Linked DNA regions of Homo sapiens: region 1 is linked to region 2. Evidence: fine-mapped expression QTL. A gene starts in region 2. The other region holds a variant in brackets. All regions are shown on one strand. Distances are from middle to middle.

Region 1 (11,942 bases), 150 kb before region 2:
CCCTCTCCACACCTCTAGAAGGACTCACAATGAGGGGGGCCCAGACAGGAGGCATCACCACCTGGTTTGGGCTTTACCATTCACCCAGGGATAAGGCAAGGCAAACACCACTCCACATCAGATCTGAATTTGAGCTCTGGCTTCATGACACTGACACATGAAGACTCTTGGAGCCTCAGATTCCCCAGTTGTTAAATAGGGAGACTAATATCTCACAGAGTTGTTTAGACCCGAGGCGTTCAACCTTGGTGGCAATGGATGTCAACTGGAAGCATGAAAAATCACCAATGCCTGATCCTATCCTCAGAGATTCTGATTTAATTGTTTTGGGGGACAGCTTGGGCATCAGGATTTTAAAGAGTTTCCCTGGTGATTTTAATGTGAAGGTAAGGCTGAGAATCCCTGGTTTTGACAGTACCTATAGCCTATAAGCCTTTAATACACCTCTGAAAATGCCTGAGACCTGAATAAGAAGTTTATGGTTCCACAGAAGCAGCCAGACACAAAAATGCATATGCACCATGTGATTCCCCTTATATGAAACTGAAAGACAGGCCAAACTCGCCTTTGATTGGGAGTCAGGATCAAGATTACCCTGGGTCGGGGGTAGCGAATGGATGGGGACCTGGGGGGCTTCTGGGAGCTCAGGATGTTCTGTTTCTTGATCAGAGTGCCAGTTACACGGGGTGCTCACTTCATGAGAATTCACTGAGCTGTATACTTAAGAGCTGTGTATTTGTCTGTACTGGTGATATATTTCAATAAAATTCACCAGAAAAGCCTGTTGGCTACAAAATAGGAAAAGAAAGGACACACTTGAAATTAACGTTTTGTTAAATATCTGGAAATGTAACACATATGCCAAACAGACAACTGCAACTCTATGTTACGTGTGTGTGTGTGTGTGTGTGTGAAAATGTAATGTCTGCTCTGCTGTGGGTGGGCCCTCTAAAAGGGAAGGTCCCTGATGCCTAAGAAAATCTGAAAACAGCCCAGGTTCACACCAGGAGTTCTTAACCTCGACCCGACTGCATTCAGGTGCATATTATGTGCCGTTATCTGAGGAGAGCATCTACAGCTTTCAGCAGATTCTCAAAGGGGTATGCAACCCCCTAAAAAGGTTAAGAACAATTGGTTTTGAGGAGTCAGTAAGAAACTGGCCATGAATGTGCTTGGCATGAAAGAGATGCTTGGTAATGTCGGTTTCTTTCCTTCCTTTCAGAGCCCAGCCTTCGGAGGTTTCCGCATGAGCCTTCTCGGGCGACTTCTAGGAGGATTTATTCCCCTGGCAGTGCCAAGGGCAGCCTGCACCAAGCTCACAACTCTTCCTCCAAGAGGATGTTCAAAGGGCCTGTCATTTCAGCATCTGCTGGACAGCAGAACTTCGCATGCAGGATCCTGGAGCTGCGTCGGGTTTTGAATCAGGGACAATGGAGGAAGTGGGAAACTGTGAAGAGAGTCAGAGGGCTGTGCCAGCTGCCCCCTTTCCCACCCCCAGCAATTCACTTAACTTTCCTGAGTCTCACCTTTGTCATTATGAGAATGTGTATATTTATAAATAATCATCTGTTTCTCCAATGTAAGATATTGTTATTGCAGAAGTGATACTAGGACCTCGTTATACGATGGCCTCATGATGTAGATTTATAGCAGGCTTCAGATTCTGGCATAGAATAAACAGATATTTATCCAAGGGTTCACTGATTCCCGAATAAATGCCAGGAACATTCATGTACATTATTATTCCATTTAATTCTCGAACACTGGGGTGTTGAAATCTTATTTTACAGATGAGGAAACTGACGTTCTAGGTGGTTAGGTAGCTTGACAAGGGCTAGTAAGTGTCAGAGCAAAGACTTGAACCTAAGTCTCTGACTCCAGATCCCACTCTCACTCTGCCACAAGAGTGAGACGTGGGAGAAGAGAGAGTGTTCTACCTGGATTGACTCATAAAGATAGAAGACAGATTCCAGACCAGAGAGAAACTCGTGGGCAAATGCATCCCCAGAAAAATTAGCTTTGCAGGGGCATGAAGGTACTAGTTATTTTGGAGTAATTCAAGTTATCGATTTCTGTAATGGAAAAGTGATTGGGAACCAGCTATCACCTGAGAACAGTGCTGAGTGAGGCCCCAAGAAGGGGGCAATGTTACACACAAGCTTACACACAGCTTACAAGACCTCAGAGATTGCGAGGGTCCTTTTCCCTGCTGCCCACAATTAATCAGTACACTTCTCAAGGGCAGGGAGCCTGTCTTACTCACTCCCCACCCCCACCCCCACCTCCCCCTATCCTGAGTGCTTGTTTCAGGGCCTGGCCCTGGCCAGGTGAATGGAAGATGCTGCCCATCTCAGGTTGGCAGGAAGAGGCAGGCCTATACAGATGTGTCATCTGCAGACCCCTAGGGCAAGGTGCCACTGAGAAGCAGCTCAGTACCATGCAGATAGGCAGTGGTCACTGAAGGATACAATTCACCTGCAAGTGGTCACCTTATAACTCAATTAAAGGATGGATGCAGTGACCCCAGGCTACCCCCTGAGCTGGGCAGCAGCTCTCAGTGATGTTGCCCTAGCTGTGACATTGTGGCTCTGCTCATGACCTCTACCTATCCTGGGAGAGGAGGGGAGGAAGCGTGTGTCCCACCCCAGTCGGCCCTGCCTGACACTCCCCAAACACCATTTTGAGGTGGGGAAAATCCTTCTGGTGCTGAATTCTTTACCTGAGAGATCTGGACCTCAGGCCCTAGAGAGTGAATTACTGTGAGTGAATCACTGGCTGGATGGCTGGCTGGCTGGATAAGTGGATGGATACAGAGAAGATGGGTATAGAGAGATGACTGATAGATCAGAGATGAGCGAGAGGCCTGCCTGGCTTGAGATGGATGCTCGCAGACCCTGGAGAGGCAGGTGAATGGATGGGTACCGATCGCCCCTGGGCTCCCCAGTGCAGATCTAAATATAGGGCTGGAGCTCTTCAAAGGGAAGATGCCGTGCTATCCCAGTCCCCAGATGAACTCCGCATTTGTAACTCTGAGTGATGGATGTGTCTTGTTGGGAAGAATCCTTATAGGTCTAATATTGCCCCAGCTAATGGCTTATGGATTGTTTTAAAGTCAGGCATTGCTGGAAGTGAAACCAGGAGGTTAAACGTCCTGGCACAGATTTTATGACAATATCTGCATTTCATCAGTCAGGCACTGCAGCAAGTACCTTATAGGCTCGAGGAAGCCTCACAACAACTCTATGAGGATTTTATCACTGCCTCTATTTTGTGGATGAAGAAACTGAGGCTCAGAGATGAAACAACTTCTTAAGGCCACTTCCAAATGCCTGGGTGGAGGGTCTGGATTTCAAGTCCATTTGATCCCAGAGTTTCAGTGTGAAGGGAAAATTTTAAGGACAGTTGAAAGGAAGGGAGAGGGGAGGGCCATAGGATTTGTGCACAGCTCTAAGAACGAACATGGCATTTTGGCACATGTGAGACACCTTCTGCAGTGGGAGGAGGCACTGAGACTTTCCAATGACTGGGTGACACGAGGGCAGCCCCAGGCTTCCTTCTCCCTCTTTCTTCTGTGTCAGCCTTCGAGGGCTCTAAACCTTGAGTCTGGGGATCTGAACTGCAGAGAGGGTGTATGTTTGGCTCACTTTCCTTCCTTTGGCCTAAACTTGTCCTTCTGCCATGGTCTCCATAAGCAGTTGGGGAAAGAGGATGTGCTTTTTTCCTGTTCCAGGAGCTCTACAGCCAGGTCTGGGGTGGAGGGAGGGAAGTTAGCCCTTAGATTTGTGGGGAGGGTGCATTAAATGACTCTAGGGGATGAGATCCTTCCTGGCTGCTCTGGGGCTGGCCATGAAGAAGGAGAACCAGCTAGCTTTAGGGGAATTATTCTGGCCCCAGACTGCTTTCCTGCTGGCAGGCAGGCTGAGGGCATGAGGTTCTGGGCGGGACGTTCTGGGAACGGGTGATACAGATTCTCCATCTGCCGCACCCTTCTCCTGACCCTGCCTCCCTCCTCACAGCTGAACAGGCTCCTCTCTGCACTCGGGACCCCCATTCAGATCTGTATTTAATCCCAGCTGAGTTCTAAGGACCAAGTATGGTTCTTCTGTTACTTGATGGGCACGTATCCTGACTCAGTTTCCATGTCAGCAAAGTGGGAAGGATAAGCCCTGCCTCTCTTATTCCTGATCTTGTTCATACACTTGGGCTTCTGGAATACCTGGAGCTTTCTGGAGAAGGGTGCTGGGAGCAGCCTGGAGCTGAGCTCTTTTGAGGAGCAGCCGGCAACCCGGCAGGAAAAAGGACCAGACGGGGGTGCAGATGCCTTGGGAAAGTTGCAGCTCCTTTTTGGGCCTTGGTTTCCACGTCTGAAAAGGAGGGAAGAGGACTAGATGACTTCTCAGGTGTTCCTGGATTTAAAGCTCTAGGATTCTGTGATTGTTGAGGGCCAAATTCCCAGGCCAGTTCACTAGCTCCTGGTGACCTCTGCTCTGTATGGCCCAGTCCATGCCATGCCCGCCTAGCTCAGTTCACTTTGTTTTATGACTATTCTTTCTGGGAATGGCACTGCATGAGAATTCAGCAGAACATAGCACAGCCCAGGCCCCAGGAAGGTTGGCTCTGCACCTTATGGCCATTTGCCATCTTTTTCTGGTGAATCTGTCAGTTCTCCAGAGGTGGCCCCGTCCTGCCCATCTCTCCCACCACAGGTGTCCTGGGTGGCAGCAGGGTGTACCGGGAAGCACAGGAGCTTTGGCACTGAACGGGCCCGGGGCTCCATCCTGAACGTGGCTACTTAATAATAGTATCTCTAATTTGTTGGGGGCTTTCTATGTGCCAGGCACCATGTCAAGTCTAATATAATAACTCTGTGAGGTATTATCCCCATCTTGCAGATGGGAAAACTGAGGTTCAAAGACACCTTACCTACTTTAAGTCTTTGCTCAATGCCTCTTTCTCAGGGAGCCCCCCTGCCCCCGCCGCTATTTAAAATGGCATTCCACCTCCATCCGGGCCTTCCCGGATGGCCTTGATGTTACTCTTCTCCAGCCCTCCATAGCACGTATCATGCTCCAACATGCTACAGACTTTCCTTATTCTGGGTATTGTTTAGTGCCTGCCACGTCTTGCTAGGGCAGGGACCTTTGCCAGTGTTGTTCACAGATGTATATCCCAAGCCACTAGAACAACATCCAGCACACAGTAGGCGTTCAGTCACTGTACATCACATGAACAACTGGTTAAATAACTTCCCCAGTGTCAGTTACCTAGAGATCGCACAGCATAAGGCTTAAGAACCCAGGCTTTGGAGCTAGTCATGAGGTTGAATTACAGCTCTTGCCACTTTAGCTAGCTATGTGACTTTGTGTAATTTACTGTTTCTGAGTCTCAGTTTCTCTGGTAATAAAATAGACTCATAACATTTATATTCTGGGATGGGTGTGAGTATTCATGGAGACATGGATGTAAAGTTCTTGGCATATGGCAGGCATTGCATAAATGTTAGCTGCTTTCCTGGAGGATGTTTTTCTTCTCTCTTGCGTCTCATTTTCCCTCTGGTGGCCTATTTTTTGACCACTTCACTGTCAACAGTAGTTCCTTAGAGGACAAGCCACCGTGGGAGAGGCTGGCGTCATCTGTGGTGTTAACCAGCCCATGTTCTCTTGCCTTCCTTCCAGGATATGCCTGTTGCTACAGACACAACAGCAACTTCTGGCATGTTCCTG[G/A]CCCCTGTGGCTGGGGTTCTGGCCTCAGAGAAGACTGGCCCTGGGCACAGGGAGGCAGGGAGGGGCTCGGTTTGCCTTCTGGGCTGGAAGTCTGGGTGGAGGTTCAGCCTGGAATCTGTTGGAAGAACTTGGCTGGCTCCCTGCAAAAATGAAGTGCTCATCTTCCTGTCTACACGGGGCTCTTGGAGTCTGGAGCGGAGTTCCTGCTTCGGCCGAGGTCCAGTGGCACTGGCCTGGGTGTGATACCCAGACCCTGGGAGGGGGCCATAGCAGCCAGAGTGACACATAATCAAACTCCTGGCCCTCAGAATGGCACCTTCCCAGAGTAGGGTTGGCAACCGTGTAGATGCTTGAAGAGGCCTAGTGGATGGTTTACCATTCTGCCTCAGTGAAGGTTGGCTGAGCCCGCCTGGCGAGGGGACTCTCGACATTAGCAAGCACTGCCACCTCTTCTTGCAGACTTGAACGTGACCGTGGGGAGGACTATTTCAGATCACTAGGCCTCCAGGGGCTCCATTTTTCCCCTCCCAATCCTGCTCTTGATCCTGGGCAGCATGAGTGACTGTGGCTTTTGCTTAAACCAATTCACCATCCCAAATGAAGAAGGGAGTGGTAGTTGAGAGTGCCAGCTGACAGCCAGACTCCTGGGATCCAGTCCTGCCTTCGTCTGTCTGGGCTGTATGACCCTGCACAAACCATTTAGCTTATCTGTAAACGTGGGATAATTACAATACCTTCCTCTTGAGATTATTATGAGGATTAAACGAGTTGATTATTGTAAAGAGTTTAGATTCAACCCAGACACGCCAAGCCCACTAAATGTAAGCTATTATTGTCATTTTAAGGGGTATGTGCCTGTGAAGAGGGAGTATTCTTGAGCAGAATAAAAATGGTATTATTCTTATTATTTCTTTTTTGTTGAAAAATGGGGAGCATTTTTGTGGCAGCACTGGCCCACCTTCCCACTGGAGTGAGTTGTGGCTGCCTGGTGCAGGCAGGTGGGGCACCAGCTCCTCCATTTGCATAATCCCTTCCGGGTCCATTTCATTACTTGACTGCCCCTAAAGGCATTTGTTATTTTTGTTACAAATTAAAGTGTAGCATAAGGCAACAAAGATGTCAGGAGCCTAGGTGGGGCTAAGGGACAGGGAAAAGACAGACTTATCTGTGTGCAGGAGGGGACGGAACGGTTTGGGCTCCCACGGGTCTCAGAGAAAGGGATTAGAAGAAAGAGGGGAATGGGAATGCTGAGCCTGGGTAGCTTGGGGGTGGCTTTGCACCCGCAAATCTGTGGCTGGTATAGCACAGACCAGTAGATGCATTGAATTTGAGGCACCTGTTCAAAAAGCCTGTACTGCTAGCTCAATGAGGAGGCTCTGTTTTTTTTTTTTTTTTTTTTTTTTTTTGGTAAGGGGGTAGGTAATGTTGAGTGGGTTCACTATCCACCTGTCCTCTGTATCTTTCAGCCTTGTATCTCTTGCAACACAAGCATCTTGGGGGCAGGGGACTTGTCCACCTCATTAGAGGGTCTCTATCACATTCCTCATGGGAGGAACCTAGTGCTTGTCATACAGGATATTCTCAATAAATGCTTGCTGAATGAATATGTAAATGAATGAATGCAGAGAGCTTGCTTTCTGGTATAGCAACCTGAGAATTCAGCTCAACTTTTTAGAAAGCCCCTTGGTGTCCCACTCCCATCCCATGCACTTGGCTCCTCTATCTGGCTGGAGGGAAGGCAGCGTAGGGGTGGCAACAATGTTACCTTCACTTACCATTACATACCTAGAGCGTAGCTCAGTACCTGGCACATAATAGGTGCTCAACAAATATTACTTTCACTTACCATTGTATGCCTAGAGCCTAGCTCAGTACTGGGCACACAGTAGGGGCTCAACAAATATTGCTTTCACTTACCATTGTATGCCTAGAGCCTAGCTCAGTACCTGCACATAGTAGTAGGGGATCAACACATATTACTTTTACTTACCATTGTTACCTTCATTTACCATTGTACGCCTAGAGCCTAACCAAATATTTGGCACATTGTAGGTGCTCAATCAGTATCTGTTGAACTCATGAATGAATCAAATGGAAGCCTTATCCTGGAGTCTGAGTGCTGCAGTGGTGCTCTTATCAGCTGTGGGAACTTAGAACTCCTCTTTGCAACTCACTGGACCCCACTCACCCAACAGGATCACATGACACAGATATACCCTGTTATATAAAACTCATTGTGAAGGCATTCATGGTTGTCACTTATAAGGCATCATCTGAAGTCTGCTGTCACCCTGAACCCCCTGATGTCCTTGGCAGGCCATCTCTGTAGTTGTCTTGTCCCTTATTTCTTGTGCTGTTGTGTATGGACAGTCAATGGGCTCTGTTATCTTGTCATTTACCACTGCATTTGGAACCATTCCTCCATGGGTTTTGGGTTTTACTTATCTCACTATCTTAGATCCACTTTGTTCATTTTTTAAAAGGCAGCAGCTTCCAGAAGGACTAGGGAATAGTCTGAACAGTGACAGAGCTGCCTGTTACCCTCTGACAAGATGGTGTGGTGGGAAAGGGCTCCAGCCCTGGCCTGGGGAGCAGTGGGCTCCATGACCTTGGGCACAGTGACCTTGAACACTTCAGCTCTCTGAGCCTCATCTCTGGAGCCCTTTCAGATCTTTAGTTCTATGTCAATACACAGGAATGGGCTTTCTAGAAGTGGAATGATTTTTAAGTTGGTGTCTGCTTTTCAGGGAAATTGTAGCTGTTTTAATTTAAAAACTTTTCATTTATGCTTCTGTTCTAAGTGTAAAAACAGCACTAGCTACAAGGAATTCATATTTTGTGATTTATTAGGAGTATTACCATGATATCAGAAAATGGCAGGGGCTTTTTTTTTGTTGAATATGTTTTTAAAAGGGTTGCTGCATTCTTAAGTGTAATTTTATTATATCCTGGGATGACTTTTTTTCCCCATGAAGAATAGATCTATGTTTTATAACAAGCCTTCACTACTGAGGCTGGTCGTGAGCATATTCTGTGGCGTTACATCATTTCCAAAGAGTGTTCTGGCTACAGGAGCATTCTATTTTCCAAGGAGATTGCAGAGACCAAGTAGCAAGGTTCTTTCTAGAAATCAGAGTAACCTGAGATGAGCCAGGCCTATGTCCAGCCAGACATTGAGGAGTCTTAGAAAGGAAAGGCCCTTAGGGATATACCAGCCCAACTCTCTTGTCATCTACATTAGGGAAACTGAGGCACAGCATGGAGAAGTGACTTCCTGCAGGTAAAAGGCCTAGAGTACACACTCCATTTCTGCCCCTCACTCATCACACATCCTTCACTTGGCCCAAACCCTGGTCCCCCAAATGTGAACATTGTTGTACGCAACCAAACCACTGCTGGTGCCTGAGGGTGACACCTGCTTTGTGTTATGATCTGCTTTCAAAGCATCTCATGGTGGAAGGGCTGCTCCTAATTCAGCATTCCAATCAGTTCTACTTGCCCCAGACCCTTTTTATCATCAGTTTGGCACTAATATCTAGTAGAGAGTTTATTGGCATAATTTCTTCAGAAAAGAGGCTGGAAGGCTTAGCAAGTTCAAATGATAACATTTTTATCAAGAGTCCCAAAGGACCACCCTTTTCCCTCCCATCACCACCACCAACACCAATAAGGCTTTCTCTAGCACAGGAAGTCAGGGGCAAAAAGCAGAAACAGCACAGGCCAAACCAGCAGGCACATGGTACATTATCGGATCAACCGGCAAGCAACCACCTGGGAGCCATCTTTGTTAAGGGCAAAATAATGAGCTCACGAGACACTGGAGGATACAAGACTATCTTGATTCTTCTGAAGGAGTGAGGGAGACTGGATGGGGTATTGGAGACTTTCCTTTCTGTTTTCTCAGAAAACATGCAAAGAAAGTCTTCACAAACAACTAAGGTTGTGTCAGTATCGCCCAACCTTCCCTTTTCAAAGATGGCCACCCCTGTTGTCCATTCAGAGGGAGCACACAGCAGAACCTACTGGGCGTGGAGAGAGAGACAAGCAGCAGGAGAGAGATTTAGTTTTCCACAAAGGCTGTTAGTTTTGTTTTGTTTTTTCCTTTATTGATGGGATTTAAAGTGCATATAACTGAAGGCAAAGTCCAAGGCCTAGAGAAAGATATGAGGCCCGAGAGAGAGGCTCAGAGATTCTAGAGGCGGCTGAAGAATACCCACCTAAAAAGGCCACTTGAGCTGCAAAAACGATGCGGCGGGGAGACAGAAAATGGGAAAAAGAGAAAGGGGGTGGGGACGGGGTGGGGGTGGAGGAAGGAGTTTGGGAAGAAGAAATTACCAGTTTAGAAATTCAGCCAAAGATGAGTAGTAGGAGTTAGTTTATATCCCAGCTATGAAAATACGGGCTGACCTCAAGGTAGGAACAGTTGTTTTAGGAAAAGTAAGAAGAATGATAGCCTCAGGCCAGGACACAGCATCCCCTGGCCCTTCAGGTGATGGTAGAAGTGATGGGGCTTCTCCAAGCCTCTGTCATGGTCTTCCCTGGAGACCCAATATGGGTCAAAGGAGACTCTATCCAGCCAGGAGAAGGAAGGGGCTGGGGACCTTGATCTGGGGCCTACCCAGAGCTCCCCAGTGGAAAGCAACATCCTTTTGCTACTGGCCTATGGCTGGGGCCCCACTCACCCACGCAGGCTGTGCCATCCTCGTTGGGCTCGTAGCCCCGACTGCACTTCTTGTTGGTCCGGCACCTGTAGCTTCCATAGGTGTTGACACATACGGGCTTGTCTCGAGGGCACACGAATGGGAACTGGATGCATTCATTGGTGTCTGCAAGGCGAGGGGAACCACTCACCATGAAGGTGTGGGGCAGCAAGTACCAGCCCAGGCTCTGCCTGCCTATACACTGTCTGGCTTTGGGAATGTGCCTTCCTCGCAGAGCCTCAGTTTCCCTGCTTCAGTTCCCTTGGCTGGCTCCTCCTGTACTTGGTCTCTACATGCTGGGGGCAGGGGGTGGGCACTCAGGCTTGGTCCTGGGTCCTCTCTTCTGTCTACTACAATCGTTCTAGGTGATCTCTTCATGCATGGATGATTCCGAAAGTTCTATCTCCAGTCACAACCTCTCCCCGTGGCTCCAGACTCACGAATACAATAACCCATGACCTACTTGACAGCTCCACTTGGATGTCTAAGATGCACCTCATGCTTAATATGTCCAAAATAGAACTCCAGATTCTGCCCTGCCCTGCCCATATTCTGGCCCTCTGTTCTGTCTTCTCTAGCTCAATCAACACCCCCATCATCAATCAGCTGCTCAAGGGGAAATCAGAGCGACCCCTGATTTCTCCGTCTTTCTTGCCCCCTGTGCAATTTCACAGCAGAGCCTGTCCACTCTGCCCCGCAGTCCACCAGTCCACCTCTCTCTGTCACCTCTTTCTCATTCCTCTGCCACCACCCAATTTCCTGCCATCGTGACCTCTTGCCTGGATTTCTGCAGCTGCCTCCTCACAGAATACCTGGCTTCCCCTCTTCCCTCCAATCCACTCTGCAATTCAGCAGCTGGAGGGAGCCTTTAAAAATGTGAATCACATCATGTCACTCCCCAGTTTAGCTTCTAAGGCTCCTAAGAGCAAAATTCAGACTCCCTACAGGGGCCTCATGGACTCTCCATCATCTCCAGGCCATACTGGCATCCCTCCTGCTCCTTCAACACACAAAGCCTTTGTCCTGTCTCCCGCTTTTCACTCCTGCCCTTCCCTCAACTCTTTCTGGGCCTAGATCCTTCTCATCCTTCAGGTCTCAGCTCAGAGTCTTCCCCCCGAGGCCCTCCCTGACCACTCTCTCTGGAACAGTCTCCAGGGAGCACCTTGCTCAGAGGGTTCTGAAATCATCTTGTCCAGGTGTGTGGTCATGCGTTCAGGGTCTGTCTCCCTCCACTAGAATGGATGCCCCTCTTGTGGAGGCGCGGGGGTGGCACTTGGCCTACATCCCCAGCTCCCAGCATGACACTTGCTGTGTACGAGGCACATAACTGCCTGTTGGGCGATGAAAAGGAAGAGGAGGCTGATCTCAAAGGGTCCTTCCTGCAGGCAGAGAAGACTCTGGAATTTCTATGCACCTGCACTATGTGTTTGGAGTGGGGCTGGGTGGGCATGTGGAGAGTGTAGGGGAGTCATTTCCTCCTCCAGCCACCCTTGGCACCACTGCTCCTCCACCTCCCCAC
Region 2 (11,942 bases):
GTCCGGTGCAAACAAAGATAAGAGTAACTGGAAACAACAGAGAGGGTCATTTTATACTCTCTGCACTCTCAATTCTTCCATAGCTAATTAAAGTAATACGTCAAAATGTCCCTTGGAAGAGCTCTTTAAGAATATGTCTGTTAAATAAACAAGGTTTCACTGATTAATGACACACCTTCCCATCCCTCGTTGAAGTTCCTTGTGGAACTTCTGGGCCAGGAGGGTTGAGCAGGAAAGGATGGAGGAGAAGTCGCCATCACCCTTTCTTGGAGGGAGGGGGCACATATCCAGCCTCTTGTCATTTGTGGAGCTATCAGTTTCTCCTCTGGATGCTGATCAGATTTCCTGGGCTGGAACCAACTTACAGGGCCAGGGTACTGGAATTTTTCCAAGAAGTAAACGCTTTGCTTCTTACAAAGTCAACATGATTTCTTTCAAGGAAAATTTTAATTTTTTTAGTGTCTAGGGTTTTTGAAGGGCAAATCTTTGGACCTTTCTCTAAAGAGAATGATTATATTATCCTTTTTTTTTTTTTTTTTTTTTTTTTTTTGCTCTAAGACCACCTCTCCACCACACACACACACACACACACACACACTCATAGAGAGGCATGGGGGTGGGAGAATGATTTGTCCAATATTGCACAATGAGTCAGTGGCATAGCCAGAAATACAACTATACAAACTCCCAATTCTTAATAATAGAAATATTAATATAGTCTCTATAATTTTCTATTTATTTTTGTTTTCACAGCTCACATTTAATTTTCACAACAACTCTGGGGGAATCTGGGTAAAACGGTCTCAGGAGAGAGCAGATCTGAATTGCAGACCAGCTCTGTCACTTGCTTGCAGTGTGATCCTGGCTGCTTCCCTCTCCTCTCTGGATCTCAGTGCCCTCGGCTGTGAAATGGGAGAATTGGATGAGAGTACTTCTAAAATCACTCCCACCTCTAATGTGCTGTGATTCTGTGCTGCAATGCTCCAGTCCCGGGTTTCTCAATCTTGGTGTTAATGACATTTTGGGCCAGATAATTCCTTGCTGTGAGACGTGTTCTGTGCACTGTAGGATGTTCAGCAGCATCCCTGGCCTCTACCTAGTGGATACTAGTAGCACCCCATTCCCCAGTTGTAACAAGAAAAAGTGTCTACAGACATTGCCAAATATCTGGGAGGGGGAACAAAATAACCCCTCTAGTCACCATTCAAGGATTTCGATAAGGTAAAAATCATGAGTGGTTCAGGGGAAAAACGGTCTTCCTCTCCCTTCCTTTCCCCCAACCCTTTCACACCTTTCTGCACACTTTTCAAAGACAACCTCTCAGTCCTTTGCTGCTTCTTATTTCTTAAATGCCCTAAATGGTCTGGGGTGTGTTTGGTGTGATAATGAACCAATTGATTTCATACTTTCTCCTAAGGAAAGTTCACAGGTTTATGTCCCCTAAGCAACCAGCCAGGCTCTCCAGAAATCCCTAGCAGAGCCCAGGCTGGCCTGGAAGCCTGTATCTGCAGCCTGCAGGAGGCTCGGTGAGCACGAATTTGTCAGCACTCTTAAATCACTAGGCTCCAAGGAAGGCTTCTCCCAGCAGAAAGATCCTTCCTTAGGAATCAATAGCTCAGGGCCCTCCATCACATTCAGAATTATCCTGGGACCCATAAAATTTCTTTTCCCCAAGCATGGCAGAACCCCAAAGTGAAAACCCTGAGGTGGGGCAGGGAAAGAGGCAAGGAGGGAGCCCTGCCAAGAAGGCCTTGCCCATCAGCCCAGATATTGCTGTGAGCAGAGGCTGATGTGCAAACCTGGGCACTCAGGCTCACTCACTGGGAAAAAGAAGACTCGGGGGTTCCCAGTGATTCAGCAATAATATCCCCTTCCAACTGAATACCTCTTTACCTCTAACCAAGGGCAGAGGAATACTAAAGACTGTCTCCCTCCAGCTTCGCTCCCCTACCCTCATCACATGGTTGTCAGCCTCATCATTTAGCAGAGAAGGAAACTGAGGCTTGCAGAGGTTAAGTGGTTTGTTTAAGGTCTCTAAGCCAGCAAGCGGAGACCAGATTCTAAGCCTGTGTCCTTACCATTACAATGAGAGGGGGAAGGGTCAGCCATCTGGTGGGGCTCATAAAAGCCCCACTGGACAATTTCCTGTTTCTCATAGTCTAATGCCACTTCTCAAGCTCTCTACCCACTCCCGCATTCAAACAAAAGTCCAGAGAGCTTGTACTATAACCACAATGTATGTAAGTATATTCCTCTGGTCTTATCCAGAACCAGAACAAGTCTTGAGAATGCAGGCTCATTTCACCAGGTAAAGCTAGGAGCTGGTGAGATCTCAAGCATAGCCTCTTAAGACTCCAGTTTAAAGAGAGGGGCTTTTCCTCTCCGGTGGTCCACGTGATCCTGCACCTCCCTCCTCCCGCTGAAGATGAAGCTCCAACTTCATCTTCTGTGAGCATGAGGGAGAGGAGGGGACTCAAGCATCTTCCCTGGCAACAAGCATCCCTTTCGTGAGTCTTAGGGAGAGAAGAGGATTCCGCCTCTCAGAATTCTGGCTTGGCAGCAGTGGGTTTCTTACGAGGGTAGGCTTCCGAGTCTGCTGAGGCTCCAAGGAGAACCAGGAGGAAGTCCATCCAGTGTGCAAAGAAGCCAGGTGGGGAGATAATAACAAAAGGGGGCCGGGCGCGGTGGCTCACGCCTGTAATCCCAGCACTTTGGGAGGCCGAGGCGGGCAGATCACGAGGTCAGGAGATTGAGACCACAGTGAAACCCCGTCTCTACTAAAAATACAAAAAGTTAGCCGGGCGTAGTGGCGGGCCCCTGTAGTCCCAGCTACTCGGGAGGCTGAGGCAGGAGAATGGCGTGAACCCGGGAGGCGGAGCTTGCAGTGAGCCGAGATTGCGCCACTGCACTCCAGCCTGGGCGACAGAGCGAGACTCCGTCTCAAAAAAAAAAAAAAGAGAACAAAGGGGGCCGCCCACAGGCCACTCAGCAAACCTGTTTCCCAGAGCCCAGCTCAGATGTCGACAGCCAGGCTCTCGGAACAGAAGAAAGGGCAATGGAAATGGTAGTATCTTGCAGGTCACCGAAGAAGTCCAAACATAAGGATTTGGCAAAAATAGAATGTCCTAGCACTCTGACCTTGAGCTGGGAGCAGCAAGGGTGGGGGAAATAGGCAAATACTCTTTGGAAACTCTCCAATCCATCTATAATCTGAATCTGGGAGGTCTCACCAGCAGTGGTGTGACTGCAAGCAGAGAGACCCCACGCCAACATTCCTTGGCGCTCCAGACCTGGGTTCCAAGACCACAGTGAGGGACTCGGCACTTCTGACTCCTAAATGCACAGACTGAAACCTGGACTTGCATGGCTTTTGCTTAAAACACCACTTGGAATAATGAGACGAGATTGTAGAGGCAGGGAAAGAATAATTAGGAATTTCTATGACCTGTGTATGTCCATGACAAGAACTGTATTTTCTCCTCACCTCCTCACTCTGAAAAACAGATTCAAAATAGAATCTCCCCAACTGTATGGGATGTATTAATTTACCAAAGCCTGGTCAGTCAATAACTATGAGTGCCTACTGTATAGAGAAAGTATGTCCATCTTTATAGTGAAGAGGAAGCAGGCCGCTGGAGTGGAAACAGCTCTGAATCGAGCAGTGGGAATCCTAGGGCCTAGTTCCATGTCTTCCACCAAATAGCCATGTGACCTTGGCTTTATCCAGCTTCAGTTTTCTCATCTGTAAATTAAATGTGCATGTGAGTGTTGGGATGGAATGGGGTTGGATGAGATGCTCTCCAAGGCTCCTTGCTTCTGGCTCTAATGTTCTGGAACTCCATGAACCCTTAAAGAGTTCAAAGAACACAGCGGCACCAAGCACAAAGGAATGATCCCCGAGAGAGGGTGGGGCTGTGTACCAGCTCTGTCTCCTTGGAATGTTGTGCTTGCACCTGCCCCATAGCACCCGAGGTCACAGGACCACCTGAAGCCCAGGAAGCATGTGGTAGAAGGATTCCAAGTACGATGGTGGTGGTTGAAGGCTGTAGCCTGAGCTGCCTTAAAGCATTAAGTTGCTACAGCCAGTAAAGGGCAAGAAGTGAGAAAGTCAGTGGTCCTGAGCCAGGTACCTTTGGCGCCCCCTACTGGACACCAAGGAGTCTGCTCCACCTTTAGGCTTCCACCGCCTCAGCACGGAAGCAAGGGAGCGCTTGAGCATGAGAGGCTGTCACAAGCTGTTTAGTAGGACTGCCTTCCCGGTTGGTGGTATTCTTTCTATAGAAGTCTATTGCACTCCCTAGAATTACACAGGCCATTGGTCCACAGATTTACAGGGGCACCCCTGCGCAGCCATAGGACGTCTTAACCAAACATCAAGGTACCAAGGAATAAACACCAGGGTTCAGAACACCAGGTGCAGCCCAGATGGAGAAGGGAAGAAAGAGCAACAAGCAGGTATTTCGCTGCACAAATCCCCAGTGGAGAGAAGGTCTTGGGAAATGCAGCAGAAAAATGTTGACTGCAGCAGACAACGATGGAGCTGGGGGTTGGGATATAGATTGATAGCACCCATAAAATATCTCCAGGCTGAAGCAGGTACCCTAGGAGTTTGAACATCCACCTACATTCAGGGATGGGATAAGGTGGAGGATTCAGGCTCAAATGAGCAGCCACAGAGCAGGTTCCCCAGACTCCCTACACACCGTTTCGACCTTTTCCAGAGTCCATTAGTACCCACCGGAAATGGAAATGTTCTAATTGTGGTCCTCTGTGCCATCATCAAGACCCTCAACTCCCTTCATTACCTCTTAAATTGACTTTAGGACCTACTGCCAGAAGGATGTTCTTAACCAAGTCAGAGAGAGAGAGAGAACATTTTCTCAAGAACCATGCTGGAACAGCCACCATGTTCCCACTTTTCCAGCCTCCACCTCTCCCCCATGGCTGAGGGTGAGGTACTCTGTGACTCTCAATGAGCTCTAATTCAGTCTTGGACATCTCCAGCCCCAAGTCGTCTGGGTTCCAAATCTCCGTCAATCGCTTATCTCTTCCCACATGAGTTCTCCCCTGACTCAAGAAAACACTATAGAACTGTCCCCTGTCCTGGGACCCTCTTCCCTTCTTTTCCACTTGGCTTCACGTGGAAAGTCCTGCACCCATCCCAGAAGACACCTCAAGTGCAACTCAAGAATGTGTCCTGTCAGGAGAACGGAAGCATCTCCTGGGATGTGCAGAAGCCACACTGGGTGCACCCACCAGCAGCAGCAGCGGCGGCGGCGGCGGCGGCGGCGGCGGCGGCGGCGGCAGCAGCAGCAATATTCATTAGTCATTCCTGGAGGAAGCCCCCCCAGCTCTCAACCCTAGGAGAATTTCCCCGCCACTCTGGGAGGCTTCCATCCAGGCTGGGATGACTTTGGATTCTTGAGTTGCTTTCTGCAGAAGCGGGACTAACCAGGGCTCCCAACTACTGTACTGCAAAGAAGCGCGCTGCATTGCTGGGCATGCCCCCAAGCCCGGCCTGGCTGCCCCATCAAAGCCTCCAAGTGCCCCCACGGGGTCGAGGAGGACTCAGGGTTCCCCTGGAATGCCTGAAGCCGGCTTGCCTCAGGCAGCCTGAAGGGAAGACCACACCTCGTCCAGCATAAGGCGGCTAGCAGCTACGCCGCGCGCGGGGCTGGCTCCCGGAGCTCTCTGCCACCCAGCGCTGTGCCCGGGAACTCGGCTTCCCAGGGGAGGAAGAGCCAGCCCGCGGGGCTCTTCCCCAGCCTGGAAGCGTAGGCACTCGGCCGAGGCCAGTGGCTTCCCAGGCCCGGGTCTCAGCCTGGCTGACTGGGAGACTCTCCCGATAGCCCGGCACATCCCTCCTCACCCGCTCCGCCCCCTCCAGGCCCCAGAGGCCCCCTCCCCTGACAGCTGACCTCCAGTGCGCCCCCAACACTTTCTCTGCCAGCTGCTGGCTGTCGCCCCCACACATCAGCTCCCACCTCTCCGCCACCTCCAACCCGGCCGCCGCCTCACCCCCAGCCCGCGGGGGAGGCTCCGCGCGCCAATCGAGTCCAGCGCCTCCCAGCAAGTTAGGAGCGAAGCCGCCGCCTTCGCGATCCCAGTCTTCCCGGGTTCCCGGGCGGCGTCCCCGCCACCCTTGCGGGCGGATCCGGGGGGGCGCGCAGAGCTGGAGAAACTTTCTCCGCCTTAGGGTGGGGGGCACCGGTGCAGATACTCACGCCGGGGTCAGCGCTCGGAGCCATCCTCCCGCTCTCGGCCCCGCCGCCTAGGGGCGTGGGAAGCGGGCGCTCGCTGCCGCCTCTGCCGCCGGCGCCGCCGCCTGCTTGCTCCCAGCCCCGGTCCCGGGCTGGCCTCGAGCCTCCCGCCCCGACGCCGCGCGCTCGCTTTATACAACTCCACTCGAGCGCGCCCGGTCTTATGTAAAGGCTGGCGGAGGCCCGCAGCCAATGGCGCGGCAGCTGGAGCCGGGGGCCCGGGGTGGGGGGCGCCGGCGCGGCCAATCGCGGCCCCGAGAGCCCGGAGAGCCGGGCGTGGGGAGGGAGCGCCTCCCCGCGCTGATTTAGGAGCCGGGATTGCGGTGGCAGCAGCCGGCAGCCAGGCTGGCCCGGCGCGGCGCGGCGGCCACTGGGGTGGGCGGCGGCGAAGGCGGCGGCGAGGGCGGGCGCCCCCCGCGCCCCGCCACTGCGTCGCGTAACCTTCAGGCGGCAGCGAGGCCTGGCGAGGAGGGGAGAGGGCGCCTGGCTGGGCGCTGGGGGCCCCAGGCCGGAGGGAAGCGAGGGTCCCTCGGGAGGCAGCGCAGGGAAGGAACGCGAAGGGGGAGGGGAGGGCGGCGAGCCCCAGGACCCCGCGGCCACCCCTGCGCGCAGGACCGAGGGTGGAGGCGGGAGCGGCTGCACTGCCTTCCCATTTCCCCCCAGGATAGCGATCTGGCGTCGCCGGGCCGGGCCAAAGCGGCCGAGCGAGCCGCGCTGATGGCGAGATTTCGACTACGGAGCTAGAGCCGAGCCGATCTTTATCCAGCCTGGGGACGTGTCCGAGCACCTCCCGGGGACTGCTCAGTATGGAGAGCAGGGCTCCGCGACGGCCCCCGCAGGCGGGGAGCGGGCGAGCGCAGCTCGGAGATCAGGCGCGCAGAGGCCCAGGCGGCTGCGGGCAGCGCCGCTTCTACCCCACCCCGTCCCCACCAGCAGTGCCCCCACCCCATCCCACCTAGTCCCTACCCCAGCAGTGGCCGAGTCGGGCCTGGCCCACCCGCTCCTGCCGCCTGCGTCCTACTAGCCTCCCTCACCGCTTTGATCACAGGTACTGCCCGCCTCTCCTCGCCCCCAACCCGCTGCCTTGGTGGTGGTGGGGGGATGGTTTCTGCCTCTCTGGACCAGGGGAATGGGGGTGCTAAGCGCCAGAAAAACACACTTGATCAGCAATGCTCAAAATACCCCTGTTCAGGCAGGAAACTGGCCTTGGTGGGTCACACTCTGAAGGCAAATCCTTTATTTTACGCCTAGAATAGAGCCTGGCACATAGTAGGCGCTCAGTGTTTATTGAATGAATTCTGAGCTTCCATGAGTGAGGTCTTTGGGTTTCTGAAAGCCAGGTAAAGGGGCCACAGAAGAGAAAGACTTGGGAATCCACCATCGGAGAGGGAAGGAGCTAGGACTGTTTTCCCATCCGTTGACGCTTTTGTGACCATCACCCACTAGTCTGGCTTCTGGGCCCTTGACTCTTAGAATGATTTGAATGTGTTCTTTTATAGAGGGCCACACATCCAGCCTCTGGCCCCTGTTATCCACAGATTTTGAGCAGAACTACCAGGACCTAGTCTGGGCTCTGTTTTCAGGTCTCTGTGATCTTCCTCTGAAAAGAAATAGCTAGGCACAGACAAACTTTCTGGCTTTTTGAGCCCCCATCAAGCCTGTAAGGTTGTGGGCCCCTTTGAAAATCTGGCAAAAATTACTGAATCATTTTTCTAGAAAAATATACAAACACACACATTTACACACACACACACACACACACACACACACACACACACACACACCTTGAGTATACTTTCAGGATCATTAGGAACCCTGAGTCTCTTGGGGCTCGGTCCAATGTCAACCTGTTTCTTCAGGGGTCTAGGACAGTAGTTTATAATCACCCTCCTTTTGGGGATCACAGACCCTTTAGAACCTTTCAAGAATCTCATAAATGTTATGGATCTGTTGCTTATAAAAATGCTCACTCACATACACACATGTTGACATGCAACTTTAGGAGGGTTCGTGGATCATTAAAACTTAATCTAGGGCCCTGATTAAGAACCTTCATCTATCGGCAAATAGACTCTGCCCCCAAGGCCATATCTGATCCCCAGCTCTCTGCATAAGGAGTCCAGTTGGCTCTGCACCCTGCTGGAACATGCCACCACCTTGTTCTGAGGGCATCTGAGTCATCTGGCCAAGGCTCTGGCACCTGAGAGACTGTCTCCACACTTTCTCTGCATCTTGGTCCCCGCCACCCTCTTAATGTGGAAATAAGTTGCAGGTTGTCATATTATGTCTGATCTATGAGCATTCCTTAGCCAGAAACTCCAACTCAGGGAGACAGCAAGTGACTGGTAATTAACCAGTTTCACTCAATCCCAAACATCTGAGCACACCTTTCTTGGTTTTTGTTCTCACCTCTCTCTTCTCCGGTGAAGCTGTGCACAGCAGCCCCAGCTGTAGCGCCTCACCTCACCCAGACCCGACAGATTTAGTAACCAGCACGGTAATTATCAGCATTAGCCAACCAGATGTGAATAGGTGCTCTGTGCAAAATAACTCTGTAATAATCTCACACTTTCCTGCAGCTAGCCAGGTAAGGTTACAACAGACCAAAGGTGCTAGGGAAGGACAGAAAAATGCAGGAAATGATGGAGATGTTCCAGCCAGGAAGTGCTCCAGGGAATACAATCTGGCTTCAGCACTTGAACTTGTGAGGGTTTAGCCCAGTGGGCCAGGCAGTCCTGGTTGGAAAATTTCTCATTTCTCTGATGTCCTCGATGTCCATTTGCTCAGTTCATGTCAGTGTCTGCTCAGAGCTCCAGCCCTTCCCCACCCCCAATCCCGTGAGAGACCTCTTGTCCTCCCACATTGCCCAAACACAGCTTTCTTGAGGCACATGCACACGGTTATAGACTGAATTGTGCCTCTCCGGACCAAATTCACATAGTGAAGCCCTAACCCTTAGTGTGACTGCATTTGGAGATAAGGCCTTTAAAGGGGCAATTAAGGCAAAATGAGATCATAAGGGTGGACCCTAATTCAATAGGACTAGTGTCCTCGTAAGAAGAGAGAGAGATACCAGAGATCTCCCATTTCTCTCTGTGCATCCTCAGGAGAAAGCCTGCCTGAGTAACAGGAGGAGGCCATCTGCAAGCCAGGAGCAGGGCCTCTGCAGAAACCAGACCTGCCAGCACCTTGATCTGGGACTTCCAGGCTCCAGAACTGTGAGAACATTAACTTCTGTGGTTAAGCTCCACGTCTGTGGTATTGGCTATGGCAGTCTGAGCTGACTAATACACACATTTTCAGCACACCCTTACCCCATGCATCTTGTTCAGGCTCCAGTCCTTTGACCCCAGTGAAGTTGTTTTTTCTTCAGAGTGTTCCCCCACAGACTTCTTCATTCTTACCTGGGGAACGTGCTTAAATTGTTTTCTCATCTGTTCATACCCAAACCAAGTCTTCCTTCCTGCGCCACCTTCCAAAACTGCCCTGGCCAGCAGTTTTCAGCTCTCCTGCAGGTCTACACCATCTTATCACCTGTGATGCACATTAGCTTTTTTTCACTCAGTGATACTTGGCCTCCCTATCAGAATATGAGCCCCTTGAAGTCCAGAGTTTGTACCTTGCAGTTGACTACCTCACAGAACCCAGCATGAAACTGGGCACAGAGTGAACACACATTAGATATTTGCTGAGTTATTCCAATTAAACCTATTTACTTAAAAATACTATTAAAGCTGTACAGTACTTCATTTTCTAAAAACTCAAGATGTATTGTGTGTGTTAGTCATCATCAACATCACTGGAGCAGGAGTTCTCAGGAGCTAGTTTTCTTCTAAAGTCCAGGATCAGAGAGGTTGGACTTTACGCAAGTTGCTAACAGTCATGCAACAAGTTAAGGACAGGACAAAAACTGTAGGAAACACTGAAGACAACCTCCAGACCCCATGTCCTTTCATTGACAAATGACTTTGTTAATTCTCTCTCTACATTAGAAGATTACTTGGCTATCTTCTCTCTCTCCGGGTGAGAAGTCAAGACACCAGATCTTAGAGATGCTTCTGTCCCAAGAGTTCTGTCACAGGAGAACAGAGAGGCTGGTACAGTTCCTCACACCCTTATCTGAAGCCCTTGAGGCCAGAGGCATTTTAGAATTCAGAAAGGCACCATACATAAACATTCTCAGTGAAGCTTTGAGCAGCATATTGAAATCAGACACATTAATATTTCTGCAATGAAATATATGAAGTTTACACTAAGCAGGTGTGAGGATAAAGTAACTTCACATCAGTTTAGGTCAGATTTTGCTACCAGATGAGTCTTGGCATCAAACTTGCAAAACAAAAATCCTTTTGACTTTCAGAGATTTGGGGATTTGGAATTGTAGATAAGGGATTGTGTATTTTAGGCTTGGTTGTCTCAAAAGAAATGAATCTTTTTGTAAGGGGGTGGAAAAACAGCAATAGTTGAAAATGGGAAACCACAAACTGTGAAAGAAATGAGGAGCTAAAGGGGGTATGAGGAAATAACCCCTTCTCAAACCAAGTCGTATGGAGGGGTCGTCCCTTTTTCCCAAGGAGTACACATTTATCACATGGCCGTTGGGTTTCAGATGCACTTGTGGCTTGTAAGAGGCAGATGCATAGGATGGACTTTCAAGGGGAGGTAGGTTAGGGGTAAAGTTGGACAGGAACTCTTTTAGAGAAGCCACAAACCCTGGGGGATGGTTCAGTCAGGGCCAGAGCCAGAGCCATCACAGATGCAGAAAGGAGTCTTCCAGATGGCCAGAGAGTTTGTTCAGAAGACCTTGAGCTGTGAGCGCATGCTGCAGGGAAACTCTGCAGGCAGAGCAGCCCCAGGAAAGGGATGCTGGAAGAAGGAGGACATGATGGAATCCTGGGGAAGTCTGGTTAGAAACTTTCGAGGCTGTGGGGCAGGGGGAAGCCTGGAGGTAACGATGCAAGCAGGTGTCTGCTTATCATGTTAACCTGTGCCAAAATGGCTTGGGTTCCAGGAACTTACCTGCCTATGTGTCCAGTGAGCTACGGGGTTTTCCCACACTGTCGTGGGGGTGGCTCTGCAATCTGAGGGGCTGGTTAAGAATGTGATGCAGGGAGGGAGATGGGAAAAGGAAAGCCATGGTGGGCCGCTGACCACACAGCTCTCTACTCCTGCTTGAGATGCTCAGCCAGCAGTCTTCATGATAAACAGGCTCCCTGGAGTCCAAGTCAACAGCAGGGAAGCTTCATCTTGGATCTTTATCATTGTTGCTGACCTTGGTCCTGCTCTACCTTTCTTCTCAGGTCCTAGGACCCCACTGTTACCTTTTTCTTCTGAGAGAGCTCCTGCTGGTACCCCCAGCTCCAGTCACTGGGTCTCCATCCATTCTCACCTCCTGCTGCCCTACCCCATGACCCAGGACCTCAGGGCCTAGGATTCTGGGCTCTGGATGCTTTCCTTTCTTCCCTGTGACTGAGTCTTTAACACCTGCTGCCCCACATTCCAGGCATCAACTGCCCTCTTGAACCTCTGCCAACTGCCTCATGCCAGCTTCCTTTAACATGCCCCCAACCTGGCCTCACTTCTGCCTCCAGCTCCCAGGACCTCCCCAGACCCTGGCCCTGCCTTGGTGGACAGGTCCTGTTTTGGGTTCCAGCCCTTCCTGGTCTGGCATATCCAGCTGCC

Which allele goes with the higher level. Positions count from the first base shown, and alleles are read on the strand shown. Sizes are in standard deviations (SD) of each study's normalised expression.
In carriers of allele A in region 1, the expression in thyroid of the gene that starts at base 6,397 in region 2 tends to be higher than with G alone (moderate effect, 0.40 SD a copy in GTEx).

The links. PIP is the estimated chance that this variant, and not a neighbour inherited with it, causes the effect.
Region 1: its variant is fine-mapped to the expression of CRTAC1 in thyroid (GTEx, PIP above 0.99). The same link has a PIP of 0.9 or more in subcutaneous fat, tibial nerve and visceral fat.

Annotation. Positions count from the first base shown.
Region 1 is chr10:97,869,844-97,881,785 of GRCh38, forward strand. It overlaps GOLGA7B (golgin A7 family member B), which reads left to right. Exons shown (of 5, transcript NM_001010917.3): 5 at 1-1,735. It overlaps CRTAC1 (cartilage acidic protein 1), which reads right to left. Exons shown (of 15, transcript NM_018058.7): 14 at 10,406-10,549. MIR3085 (microRNA 3085) reads right to left here and starts at 6,054; the gene lies at 5,970-6,054. RefSeq lists an enhancer at 5,981-6,481. The variant G/A (reference allele first, on the strand shown) is at 5,724.
Region 2 is chr10:98,024,225-98,036,166 of GRCh38, forward strand. It overlaps CRTAC1 (cartilage acidic protein 1), which reads right to left and starts at 6,397. Exons shown (of 15, transcript NM_018058.7): 1 at 6,225-6,397. The coding sequence starts at 6,248.